Homo sapiens: one gene and its partner. Changing the gene in region 1 together with any one later gene gives a genetic interaction. Each region holds a gene or a part of one and is shown in the gene's direction. Other genes may lie near its edges. The genes, in order: ECHDC2 and NF1.

The links.
Region 2: changes in ECHDC2 (region 1) and NF1 together harm fitness more than expected from each alone (negative genetic interaction), as found in Homo sapiens cells (one large-scale study listed by BioGRID).

Annotation. Positions count from the first base shown.
Region 1 is NC_000001.11:52,918,908-52,923,271, reverse strand, and holds the start of ECHDC2 (enoyl-CoA hydratase domain-containing protein 2, mitochondrial), read left to right. Parts: upstream 1-1,531; 5' UTR 1,532-1,598; coding exon 1,599-1,719; exon of another isoform or gene 1,720-4,364.
Region 2 is NC_000017.11:31,374,477-31,378,293, forward strand, and holds the end of NF1 (neurofibromin), read left to right. Parts: 3' UTR 1-3,199; downstream 3,200-3,817. UniProt on the Homo sapiens protein: Stimulates the GTPase activity of Ras. NF1 shows greater affinity for Ras GAP, but lower specific activity. May be a regulator of Ras activity.

The DNA of each region.
Region 1 (4,364 bases):
ATATACCAATAGATTTTGAAGATTGTTTCATATCAATGCATAAACAGTTTCCTGTGTTTTGTTATAGCTGCATAGTATTCAGATTATTGATGTACCTTTTTTTTTTTTTTAAGTAGAGATAGGGGCTTGCTATATTTCCCAGGCTGGTTTCAAACTCCTGGCTTCCAGGGACCTACCTGCCTTGGCCTTCCAAAGTGTTGGAATAATAGGGTGAGCCACCACACACAGCCCCATAATTTATTTAACCAACCCTCTATTGATGGATATTGAGACTGTGATATAGTTTGGGTGTTGGATCCCTCCAAATCTCACGTTGAAATATGATTCCCAATGTTGGAGGTGGGCCCTGTTGGGAGGTGACTGGATCATGGGGACAGATCCCTTGTGAATGGTTTAGCACCATCCCCTTGGCGATAAACTGGGACCTCCCCACCTAATTTTCTTGTTCCTATTCTCGCCATGTGACATGCTGGATCCCTGTCACCTTCAGCCATGATTGTAAGCTTCCTGAGGCCTCACCAGAAGCACATGACAGCACCATGTGCTTCCAGTCTTTTGCTATTATAAACAATGCTGCAATGTACAGCCATGAACACGTGTCATTTCACAGCTGTGTGGATTTATCTGTAGGTTAAATTTCTAAAATTGGAATTTCTGGGGCAATGAGCTTGTGCATTTATAATTTTGATATAAATTACCAGTTGCTTTTCATTTAAAGACATTCACATCAGCAATGTGAGAGTGCTTTGTATATACTGTGTTTAAGAGAATAATTTTTTTTTTTGGGACGCAGTTTCGCTCATTGCCCAGCCTGGAGTGCAGTGGCGCGATCTCAGCTCACTGAACCTGTGCCTTCCGAGTTCAAGTGATTCTCCTGCCTCAGCCTCCCAAGTAGCTGGGATTACAGGCGCCCGCCACCACGCCCAGCTAATTTTTTTGAATGTTTAACAGAGACAGGGTTTCGTCATGGTGAAACCCTGCCTCTACTAAAAATACAAAAAAAATTAGTTGGGCGTGGTGGCGCGTCCCTGTAATCCCAGCTACTTGGGAGGTTGAGGCAGGAGAATCGCTTGAACCCGGAGGCGGAGGTTACAGTGAGCCAAGATCAAGGCACAGCACTCCAACCTGGGCGACACAGCGAGACTCCGTCTCAAAAAAAAAAAAAAAAAAAAAAAGTGAGGCGCAAATGGGAGGTGAAGCAGTGAGGTTCGCAAGTGTAGACACGCTCAAGGGACTCATTAAATGTCATTTCATTTAAAAAATGAAATTGAGCATATGTGCAAGCAAGGTTCACACACCCCATTTAATCTTCACACCACCACGGGGTAGTCACTATTATCCCCATTTTACAGGATTAAAACACTGACGCTGGGAGGTTGACAGAGTTACACCAAATCACACAGAGGAGCTGGGCTTCCCCCGACCTCCTCCGCTCAAGTCTCCCTGTCCCCGGGAGGTGCGGAAGGAGGCAACAGACGCTTGGCCCATAGGTGGAGCAATTGGCGAAGGCTTCGCCCGACGCCGGAACTGCGAGCTCTCAGCGGGAGCCGAGACGGTGCAGGGCCGGAGAAGCACCTTCACTCCCAGCCTGCGCCCCGATGCTGCGCGTTCTGTGCCTCCTGCGCCCCTGGAGGCCCCTTCGGGCCCGCGGCTGCGCTTCCGACGGGGCGGCCGGGGGCTCAGAGATCCAAGTGCGCGCCCTGGCGGGTCCGGACCAAGGTAAATGTGCAGTTCCGGGGCGGCGCATGACGCGACTGGGACTAGGCCGGAGGCAGCGGGGGACCGGCAGGTGGGCCGCTCAGTGCGTTGAAGGATTCGATCCCCAGTCCCTCCCTCCCAGTTCTAGGCGCCCCAAACCGCTCCAGGCCTGAGAGGTGGGCGGCCGCCTTAGTGGCTCCAGACTCTAGCTGGGGGCGGGGGGCCTCTGGCAACCTCGGTCTCTTCAAAGGCCCTTTGGGGTCTTCCGACTGTGTGGAAGGGGGAGCGGGGTCCGCACGGGTAGGACTGGGCCCCGCGGCCCCCAGGCCAGGAGCGTTTAAGTGCGCGTTCCCCTCCCCCGCCAAGGGTCCTGGCCCGGTTCGGGGGCGGAGGCAGCGGAGCCAGTCCCAGTGCCCAGTGCGGCAGCGGGCAGAGTGAGGAGGGTGCCTCTCCAGCCGCGCGCCCGCCCTGGGCCGCTAGCGAACCTTTGCGTCCTTCTGGCTCCAGGGAAAAGTTCGCTGTTTCTCCGCCTTTTGGCCAAGATCAAGGATAGTATGGAGCGGGGACGAGGGGTGGGGGGCAAAGTTCGCGGGTCACTGGCAGAAAACGCCTCTGATCGCGTGTTGCGTTTTTGTTGTTGTTGTTGTTTGAACTTCTGGAGCATTCAGTGGTGCTGATAACGCTCCTCAGTCCTCTGCTGGTAACCATCAGGGCTAGGCGCTTCTCCTGCCTTGGGTCTCCTCCCCGCATCTCATCCCCTGTCTCCTGCATTTGATACACAGATGGCATTGTACTGTACATTTCGTTGTATTGCTTCTTTTTTTTTTTTAACAAAAGTTTATTCTTAAATGTACAACAGCTCCAAGACAACACTTAATTCCAGCCATAGGTGGCAAAAGATGTTATGGCAGGGAATAGAGAGGTTTAAATACTGATGAAATAAAGGGTCACCATCTCCTTAGGCACAGGGAACAGCTTACTTTTTGCCAGATTTCTTAATTCCACTTGTGGCCAAGGGCCCCTTCCCCGTGGCCTTCCATTTTAGCTCCTCGAGTTTCTTCTGCTCCTCTTTTTGTTTCTGCTTGAAAGCCTTATCTTCCTCGTCCATCTCCTTGGCCTGCATTCTTGGGCTGTTTCAGTGGCTTCTTGCCACCTTCGTGGCCGGACATGGCGCCTGCCGCCCCTTCCCCAGCAGTATTGCTTCCTTTTTACCGGCTTGACAACAAGTTTGAAGCGGGGCTTTGCCATAAAATCCAGTTCCTTGCTCCCTGCTGTTGCCCACTGTTCCCAAGTGTGCATCTACCACCTTCAGTGGACACGGACAGGCCACCTAGAGTCCCACTGCACCACTTGGTGAGAATTTCCTTGAACAGTTAATATTGCTGAACCTTATACCCCCAATCTCATGCTTAGTTCACTACCCAACTGGCAACAGCTCTTAAGACAGTCAAGATTATTCTCCCCACTTTACAGATTAAAAAACTGAGGCACAGAAGGTTAAGTTATTTGAACCAGGTCTGATTTCAAAGCCTGTGTTCTCAACCATTAGGTAATCACTGGCTCTTCTAGTAATTCAGTGACTCAAAATACAGACTTGTACATGTGTAAACACAAAATTATCATGGGTTAAAGACCTTTAGGCTCACTTGCAAATATCGGGAATCATTTTATCCAAAAAAGAATGACAAGGATCAGCAGATTAAGCCTCTGCCCCTGCCAGAGGGCTCAAAGGGCAGGAAAAGGCAGTGAGAGAAGGAGAGACAGAAACCAAGATGACAGTGCAGAGGAGGCATGGGGATGAGATCACACACGGAGCCCTCACAGGGAATGAGTTGGGGTCATTTGATGTTCATATTAGAAGCTGCAGGTTCTGCCTTCCACTGGGGCTGATGGCACAAGAGCACTGTTACATTTTACCTGCTGCCTTTGAGCTTGAGGTTGGGTGGTAAACCATTCTTCACTGTTCTTAGCGGCTTTATTTCTCATAGAGTCATGTGTTGCTTAACAACGGGGCTACATTCTGAGAAATGCATCATTAGGTGATTGTGGTCATTGTGGGAGCATCACAGAGTGCACCTACACAGTCCTAGATGGGGTAGCCTACTGCACACCAAGGCTACATGGTGTATAGCCTGTTGCTCCTAGAATACAAACCTGGACAGCATGGTACCGGGCTGAATACTGTAGGCAACTGTAACACAATGGTAAATGTGTATCTGAACATAGAAAAGGCACAGTAAAAATACAGTCTAAAAGATTTTTTAAATAGTACACCTGTACTGGGCAGTTACCATAAATGGAGCTTGCAGGACTGGAAGCTGCACTGGGTGAGTCAGCGAGTGAATGGTGAGTGAATGTGAAGGCCTAGGACAGCAGGGACTGGTTTGGCACCAGGGACTATTTTCATGAAAGACAGTTTTTCCATGGACTTGCGGGCGGACAGATGGTTTGGGGATGAAACTGTTCCACCTCAGATCATCAGGCATTAGATTCTCATAAGGAGCTCGCAACAACCTAGATTCCTCACATGCACAGTTCACAATAGGGTTCGCACTCCTATGAGATTCTAATGCCACCACTGATCTGATAGGAGGTGGAACTCAGGTGGTAATTCAAGCCATGGGGAGCTGCTGTAAATACAGATGAAGCTGCTCATCTCCTGTTGT
Region 2 (3,817 bases), on another chromosome or scaffold:
TACTGCTACTACTGGCCAGTGATGAAAGCCATTTGCACAGAGCTCTGCCTTCTGTGGTTTTCCCTTCTTCATCCTACAGAGTAAAGTGTTAGTCCTATTTATACATTTTTCAAGATACAAGTTTATGAGAGAAATAGTATTATAACCCCAGTATGTTTAATCTTTTAGCTGTGGACTTTTTTTTTAACCGTACAAAACTGAAAGAACCATAGAGGTCAAGCCTCAGTGACTTGACACCATAAAGCCACAGACAAGGTACTTGGGGGGGAGGGCAGGGAAATTTCATATTTTATAGTGGATTCTTAAGAAATACTAACACTTGAGTATTAGCAATAATTACAGGAAAATAAGTGCGACCACATATATCTTAACATTACTGAATTAAAACTATGGCTTCTAAGTCCTTATCCAAACTCAGTCATCCAAACTAGTTTATTTTTTTCTCCAGTTGATTATCTTTTAATTTTTAATTTTGCTAAAGGTGGTTTTTTTGTGTTTTGTTTTTTGTAAACCAAAACTATACTAAGTATAGTAATTATATATATATATATATTTTTTCCCCTCCCCCTCTTCTTTCCTAACTAATTCTGAGCAGGGTAATCAGTGAACAAAGTGTTGAAAATTGTTCCCAGAAGGTAATTTTCATAGATGTTTGCATTAGCTCCATAGCAAAATGGAATGGTACGTGACATTTAGGGTAGCTGATATTTTTATTTTGTTAAATAATTTCCAAGAATAGAGTATGGTGTATATTATAAATTTCTTTGATAAGATGTATTTTGAATGTCTTTTAATCTTCCTCCTCCTCTCCAAAAAAATCAGAAACCTCTTTAAGAAAACATGTAGGTTATATATGCTAGAATTGCATTTAATCACTGTGAAAAGACTGGTCAGCCTGCATTAGTATGACAGTAGGGGGGCTGTTAGAATTGCTGCTATACTGGTGGTATGGATTATCATGGCATTGGAATTTTCATAGTAATGCAGATCCAATTTCTTTGTGGTACCTGCAGTTTACAAAATAATTTGACTTCAGTGAGCATATTGGTATCTGGATGTTCCAATTTAGAACTAAACCATATTTATTACAAAAAGATATTAATCCCTCTACTCCCAGGTTCCCTTTATATGTTAAGATATAATGGCTTTGAGGGGGGAAAAAATAAACCTAGGGGAGAGGGGAGTTTCCTGTAGTGCTGTTTCATTAGAGGATTTCAGTAAATTAAATTCCACAGCTAATTCAATAAATAATGGTACATTTAAGTGTTCTGATTTTAATAATATATTTCACATTTATCCACACAGTAACAATGTAATATGTTAATGTAAATAAAATTGGTTTTGATACTCAGAAATAACAAGAATTTAATTTTTTAAATTTGTTTACAGTCCTGGGAAAAGTAAGAATTATTTGCCAAAATAAGAGGAAAGAAAACCTTAGTATTATTAATGAGTTTACCATAGAATTGTTGGAAATACTGAAGACAGGTGCAATTTACTAAACTTTTGTTTTTAAACTATTGTAGAGGCTGCATTAGAAGAAAATGTTTATAATGACAGAGCAACTATGACTATATAAAAAAGCTGAAATTAGAACTGTGTTTAGAAATAGATCAGTAACCCAGTGCCAAGGATGCCAAGCTGCCACCATGGTCTTGGCTCTCCCACAACCCAGTGTTTCTGGGGTAAGTTTCACAGTTTCTAGGCCCTGGAATAGCAGGCAGTGTAAGCCTTTGATAACTTTAGTTCGATGTTTTTCTTGTTTTTGTTTGTTGGTTTGGTGCATATGATAGTGGGTGTTATGCTATTTTGCTCTTCCCATCAAAATAAAGAAACTTCCAGAGGTTTACTGTTAAAAATACTGATATTTCCATAAACGGGTTTACCAAGGGTGTAGTATTTCATACCGCCTGAAATGATCAGCATTGGCACAAATCAAAATTCAGCCGCCTTTGAAATGCAAAAATACCTTTGACTAGTAAGTACATCCTAGGAGTTTGAAAACTTAACTAAGGTTTAAAATTTACCTTGTTTAAAGAACTTCTGACTTTTGAGGAAAATCTAGCTTTCCAAGTAACTAAAATGTACATGAGATAAACCTCTCACCACTATGTGTCCCTTGAGAAATGCAACACTTTTTTAGTCTTCATACTTGTAATCTATAAAAGAAATTCTGAAGTTTAGACCAAGTTGCCCATTTCTGCGTAATTGACATAAGTTCTGTTAAAAATATTATAAGTAATTCGTTTCGGTTTGTAGATGTTTCCCCTGACTTGTTAAAGAGGAAACCAGGAACTCAGTCATGTTTTTGTCCTGGATAATCTACCTGTTATGCCAGTACTCCCATCCGAGGGGCATGCCCTTAGTTGCCCAGATGGAGATGCAGTTCAGTAGATTTGGGGCAAAGTGGCTACAGCTCTGTCTTCCATTCACTCAACACCTGTTCATGACTGAGCCAGGTGCCCAGGACACATCCTAAACAGTCAGCTTCTATCCTGTGTCCTAGTTGGGGAGACAGAGTGCCAGCCAGCAACCCTCCCAGGTTTGTAGGTTTTAGGGGTTTTCAGTTTTGTTTGGGTTTTTTGTTTTTTGTTTTTGTTTCTACATCCTTCCCCGACTCCCAGGCATAATGAGGCATGTCTTACTCAATGTTATGCAATGGATTTAGGCAAAAATTCATTCTTAGTGTCAGCCACACAATTTTTTTTAATGCAGTATATTCACCTGTAAATAGTTTGTGTAAAATTTGACAAAAAAAGTATATTTACTATACTGTAAATATATGTGATGATATATTGTATTATTTTGCTTTTTTGTAAAGCAGTTAGTTGCTGCACATGGATAACAACAAAAATTTGATTATTCTCGTGTTAGTATTGTTAACTTCTTTTTGCGACTGCGTTACATCATTTAAAGAAAATGCTGTGTATTGTAAACTTAAATTGTATATGATAACTTACTGTCCTTTCCATCCGGGCCTAAACTTTGGCAGTTCCTTTGTCTACAACCTTGTTAATACTGTAAACAGTTGTACGCCAGCAGGAAAAATACTGCCCAACAGACAAAATCGATCATTGTAGGGGAAAATCATAGAAATCCATTTCAGATCTTTATTGTTCCTCACCCCATTTTCCTCCTTGTGTATGTACTTCCCCCACCCCCCTTTTTTTAAGTAAAATGTAAATTCAATCTGCTCTAAGATATGAGGAGTTATTTAATTTCTTCAGATGTATCGAGCTCTGTTTTCTTCCCCCCGAGTCCTCCCAATCTTTTGAAACATTAAGGCCATTTTCCTTAAGGATGTTTTTGGCTCTCCTACTCCCCGTGAGAAAGATCTTTCCATTTCCAGAACTTCTCCACACTAAAAGTGAAATATTTTTGTGAAATGCTTTTTTAGGGCCTGCCAAACTCAGGTGAGTCTGTTCTCTGGGATAAGCTGGCTTCTCTTAAAATGAAGCCAGTCAGAAATGTCAGGGCATCCCAAGATTGACCAGTCAGAGGGCAGTTCTCTCCAACTTTTCAGCTTTCCCGCTATAGAATCTTCTGTGACACTACACGTGTATACAATGTAAACCACCTCCCCTGGCTCAGCTGCCCCGTGTTACTATTTTACTTACTTGATTATGTGGGTTGCCTCCCCCAATCAGTGGAGAAAGAACACAGCCCAGACCCAGTGGACAGGACAGAGCTATCCTCAGAAGGGTAACAGTGTCTGATATTGAACAAAGGACTAAAAAAGACCAGGTGATAGATACCTGCAGGTCTGAGGCAAGTACTTGTCTGTTTATGGGCAGGCCTGGAAAGCAGGGGTACCTCA